Linked DNA regions of Homo sapiens: region 1 is linked to region 2. Evidence: fine-mapped expression QTL. A gene starts in region 2. The other region holds a variant in brackets. All regions are shown on one strand. Distances are from middle to middle.

Region 1 (2,934 bases), 37 kb after region 2:
GAGAGGGTGAGAGTAGTTGGTCTGGCCTATTTACCTTTTAAAAAGCCCCATAGGGATAGAACTTCTAGCAGTTTCTTGATGGTGTTACCAAAACACCAGGGGTTTAGTCTAGGTCCTGCTGCTCACCACACAGAAAGCCAATCACTGAGACAATGAGTATTGCCAAGGAAGAAGTCTTTAATCAGGTGCTGCAGTCAAGGAGATGAGAGCTCAGGCTCAAATCCATCTCTCTAACTGACTAAACCTATGGGTTTATATAACATTCTTCTGTAGAAAGAAATGTAACAATGTGTAAGAAACAGGAACTAGGGAGAGGCAAGGATGCAATCATGATGAATGAGGGCTCCAGGCTTCTCATTGTTAGGATGTCATGATCTGGTGAGTTTCACTTCTTGGATACCTTTTTAAGAGGCCTGAAGGTGCTTTCCTGAGGAAGGAACTCAGATAAAACAAATGTAAGCTTCAAGCTTTAAGAACAGAAAGGTCAATTTCTATGTGTATCAAAAAGAACAGTCTATGGGATTATTGGGTTGGTTTCAATGGAACATAGGAGTTTATATAAAGGAAAACTCTTGTCCATGTGTAAGAAATCAGGAAGTTGGCTTCCTTTGGTTTGAAGGAACCAACCTGTCTCCTAGTTTTAGCTTTGAGGCTTTTCCTCCATTTCAAGGCAACAGGAAACACATCCCATTTCCACATCCTTTAAAAACTTATAGCCCTTCTCTAAAGGAGCTCCTGTCTCCCCTCACCTAAGTGGGAAGCCTCATTGTAACACTTCCCTGCACTATTCTACCCTACTGGTGCTAATACAGAAGGAAAAGTTGAATTGTGTAAGACAGGATGTATTTAGAAGTCCTTAATTTTTGCAGCTTTTAATTGGCATTTATACATCAAACTCAGTAATGTGCAATCATTTTCATAGGCATAACCTCACTCAATTGTCTTCAGACTATGCAGTGTTTAGTCAGGTATTATAATTATTATTATTGTTGTTATAATTTTATAAGCTGGGAAACTAAAGTCTTCACTGGGAATTTAATGTTAACATCACTTATTCAAGATGGCACTCCAAAACACCTTGTACTGTTGCCCTCAGTTGCATGTGCATGCTTTCTGGTAAGTACGAAAAATAAATTTGACCGTTTGGCCAACAGAGTATAGTTCTACTTCCACATCATAGTTGTAGTCATGTTCAACCATTCTTTTTTGTTATCATGCCTTTATAAGCTTGGTTTTAGTTATTTCTGTAGTGAATAAGAGGATTAAGCAAATGACATCTAGCATTTGCAGCCAAGTTTCTTGTCCCAGGAGTGACCTTTCAGGTAAGTCTCACCCTTTATAGAAACTGATTCAGTGAATTCTGTTCACACATTTCTCTTTTGTTCATTTAGATAGCTGA[T/G]GGACCAAAACAGCATAGGGCTTCCTGAACTCTGGCCTGAATGTTCATCTCCCGTGCATTTCCCAGTGAGAACATTGATGAATTCTGGCACCTTCCTGGATTCTACAGAAATCTGCACTCTCCCAGAGGCATGAGAAAGTGCTAAAACAACAAATGAAAGTTGCATAATTTGAAATTCCCTTGTTACCACAGGGATCAGAATCCAATCATAAGGCTTTTGATTTAGTTTGTGAAAGTTAGATCTTGCAACTATGAGTGGAAATGCTGATAATGTGCTTTCTGTTAATGTCCAAAGTTAAAGATGCTCTAGTCTCAGGTAAAGCTAATGTGAGACAAACAACAATAATGCTTACTAATTTTGACCACCATGTTTCTCTAAGGCCAAAGATTGCAAATTTTATCTGTTTGCCTCCTTCATAGAAATAAGAATTCTCTGGATATAGCATATATTCTACTAAAGGATGACTGTTATGCTGTGTGGGAAAGTAGTAGTTAAAAATCAAATATTTTTACTTTAAAAAATAGAGAACAAGGTAGCAACCAGAATTGAAGTCACTGAAATATAAATGGGGCACTTTCCCAGAGGATGTCATCCAAAGACAAAAAAATAGGAAAGTTTAATTCATGACACAGTGAAGTTCTTCTACGGTTTAAATTGTTCCTAGAAATAGATTTTATTTTCAGGAATCATAGGATACCAGATGGTTAGTGATAGTGTTTATTTCTGAAAAAAAAAAGAAGAAAAAGAAAAGAAAAGAAAAAGAGTATATGTATGAGCTTTGTGTTCACATATACAAGGTGGCATAGGTTGAAATAATCAACATTTATTTAGTATGTTTATGGCATATTGAAATCAATATTTGAATCTTCATTTTTCAGTTTTTTCTAATACACTTTAAGAAGCTTCTCTGAGACACTCAAGTATATCAAAAGAGAGAAGATCTCCAAGTAACAGAAATAATAAATGTCCTTCTTAAAGAACACCAGGCTTGGAGAATTTATAGTTCCAACTAGAAGGAAAGGTCTGTCTTTTAACATGTTAAAATAATTTTCTAAATTTTTGTTTAAATATTTTGAGGGAAAGAAAACAAATGACTTGAAACTTCTTTGCTTCTGATCAAGATTTGATGATTATAATTGAAAATTAATAAAAGGGGAGGGTAGGATTTAATGCTATTGCCAGTTTTATCAAATGGATTATCCTATCACCTTTCCAATTTCACTATGAAAACTACTGAAATAAAGGCAAGTACGTATTTAATAGCATTGTTGACATAAGCAACATTAAGTGGAAAGATGAGGCAATGAAATTAAATCATTTCCCAAAGGATATTTTGCATAATTTAAGTTCCCTGGAATTTTAATGTGTAATTCTTGAAAAGAAATGTGCTCTTTAGAAAAAGAAATGCAGCAAATACTGGATTAAATAAATCAGATACCTGAATTTACTCAGGTTATGCGAGTAGAAAGGCTGAAATGCCCCAGGACTTAGTCCTAGGCCTGATCTCTTTCTTATCTATATACACTCTCTTGGT
Region 2 (2,934 bases):
TATGTTTATTGCGGCATCATTCACAATAGCAAAGACTTGGAACCAACCCAAATGTCCAAGAATGATAGACTGGATTAAGAAAATGTGGCACATATACACCATGGAATACTATGCAGCCATAAAAAATGATGAGTTCATGTCCTTTGTAGGGACCTGGATGAAATTGGAAGTCATCATTCTCACTAAACTATCGCAACAACAAAAAACCAAACACTGCATATTCTCACTCATAGGTGGGAATTGAACAATGAGATCACATGGACACAGGAAGGGGAACATGACACTCTGGGGACTGTTGTGGGGTGGGGGTAGGGGGGAGGGATAGCATTGGGAGATATACCTAATGCTAGATGACGAGTTAGTGGGTGCAGCACACCAGCATGGCACATGTATATGTATGTAACTAAGCTGCACAATGTGCACATGTACCCTAAAACTTAAAGTATAATAATAAACAAATAAATAAAAGAAGGAAACACAAAAGAAAAAAAATATTTATGGGATTTATGAGATAATTGGAAACTTGAATTGTGGATATTCAATAATACCAATGAATTGATGTTCATTTTTTAGATGTCATAATGGTGCTTATGTTTTAAAAATAAAAGTGTTCTTATCTTTTGGGGGTAACATTCTGATATAATTACTGATAAAATATTATGATGCTTCAAAACAATATGGGAAGGGGAAAAAGTTGGAGATATATTTGGGGCAAGTGTGTGAAATAAGATTAGCCATAAAAGGTAATTTTTTAAACTGGATGATGGTTACATGGGGGATTCATTACACAATGTCTACTTTTGTATATATTTGAAGTTTTCTTTCTTTTTTTTTTTAATTATACTTTAAGTTTTAGGGTACATGTGCACAGCGTGCAGGTTTGTTACACATGTATACATGTGCCATGTTGGTGTGCTGCACCCATTATATTTGAAGTTTTCTATTTTAAAAAGTTTTTTTAACTTACCAAGAAATATGTATCTATTGAGTGTAGGTTTTGATTAATAAAAAGGAGGAATTTTCCACATAAATTATGTAGCAGAGGCTGAGTGTGGTAGCTCACACCTGTAATCCCATCAATTTGGGAGGCTGAGGTGGAAGGATTGCTTGAAGCTAGGTGTTTGAGACCAGCCTAGGCGACAGAGCATGACTGTGTTTCTGAAAAAAAGAAAAAGGAAACAAAAAGAAAATTAAGATCTGTAGGTTGAGCCGTAGATTAGAAAGAACTTGTAATCTTTATTTGTTTTAAAAAATGTCCTTTGAAGAAATTAAGTCAACCTTCTTAAGCCCAAGGTGAAAACTGCCTCTCAGAATCATATAATATATCACATGTCAAACTCATATCACTTTATAAAGCAGATTGCTAAGCAATTACAAAAGGTGAGTTCTCAAGACTTAGTAAAACTGATTTGGAGTTCAATTATTCATGTGCTCTCTTTCTGTGTATTTACTGAGTATTGAGCTTGTTGTTGTGCTGATTTTCAACCTTTGGAAATAAAAGCATGAGAGTTATTGCTTTGTTGCTATGTTTTAGGCAACAACCAGAGGCCCTAGTTTTACTTTTCTTTTTCTACTCTGACTTGAGTCTGGTAGAAAATTAATTCGGTTTCTTAGCAACCCAGATGAGCAAAACTTAAATATACTTTAGCTTCTTTTGTAAAGCAAAGGATAATGTTAAACTGTTAGTCTCTCTTGGCTTTACAGAAAAGATTTGCTGAGATATATTACTCTAAAACTTTTATGAAAAGCTATCTTTCAAATGGTAAGTGAAGTAACTGGTTTTCTAATGAATGCTCCTGCCTTTTGTTTTTATTTTGAATTCTTCTTGTTTGTCAAACTGACTAGCTCTTTGGAGCCTATATGTTTTATATGTTAAGGTATATAAGATGAATTCACTTATGAGAAAAGCAATTCATTTATCCATGATATAATAAATAAATAAGAAATTATGAAAAGTATATTAAGAAAGAGAAAGCCCTGCTAAAAGACAGTGTTGAATTTCCCTTTATACAAGTTTACAAATGTGCATGAATATGTGGTCTAAAAAGTTTACTGTGATCACGATAGCAGATTATATTACATTTTTTTATATTGACAACTTATTAAGGTATCAAGTGTATCTGTATCTATTTTTTTACCTATCTACCTCCCAAATTTAATGTTATAAAATTCAAATCATATATCTAGGCAAAGGAACTTTAAATTTGCATATATTTACTAACTAAAGAAATGTATTCCTTTTTTTATTAGCAAATTTAAAAGCAGATAACAAAAATATTTAGTGACTTTCCTGGAGAAAATCTTTGAGGAAGAAATTCAAAAGAATGTTTTTTGTATTGTCACTATTATGGTGAAGTTTTTCTTTATTTAGAAAAAAATATGATTAGATGTTTGGGTTTTACATACAGTTTTCAAAAGGCGAATATAATTTTCACAATTTGGCAAACATAATTATTATGATTGAAATATATAAAATTTGCATTTTTGTAAGGTAGAAAATGGTTGAATAACAATTTCACACAGCTCAATCTAAAACATGGAGAACTATGCATAGAGTTTGTAGAGATAGAAATCCTTGTCTTAATTATTTTATAATCTAATTAGGAGTTGACATAAATAAATTATCCAGGTACAAGTTAAAATGAAGATTTGAACTCCATTGTTGTATTCAGAAAAAGAAAACATAAATCCTGATACAGAGATTTGAAAATGCTTTCATTGGAGGCAGCATTTAAACTGATCCTTGAGGTATAAATATACTATCTTAGGTGGAGAATAACTCTGCTTATTGAATGCAGATAAAGCCATTCTTTTATTTTCAGTGCAACATCTTGGACAACCTATAGGTTTTATAAAAGCAACATTTACTATTAAATCTTTAAATGAGAATATTACTAATTTATTTTTTCCTTAATTTCTCAGTCATATATTTCA

Evidence for each region.
Region 1: its variant is fine-mapped to the expression of C7orf78 in nasal epithelium (TOPMed, PIP above 0.99). The same link has a PIP of 0.9 or more in lung.

What each region holds. Positions count from the first base shown.
Region 1 is chr7:12,539,529-12,542,462 of GRCh38, forward strand. C7orf78 (chromosome 7 open reading frame 78) reads left to right here. Exons shown (of 6, transcript NM_001386514.1): 6 at 1,392-1,742. The coding sequence ends at 1,395. Among named protein-coding and RNA genes, the nearest start is that of SCIN, 30 kb to the right of the region's middle. The variant T/G (reference allele first, on the strand shown) is at 1,400.
Region 2 is chr7:12,502,785-12,505,718 of GRCh38, forward strand. C7orf78 (chromosome 7 open reading frame 78) reads left to right here and starts at 1,657. Exons shown (of 6, transcript NM_001386514.1): 1 at 1,657-1,762. The coding sequence starts at 1,760.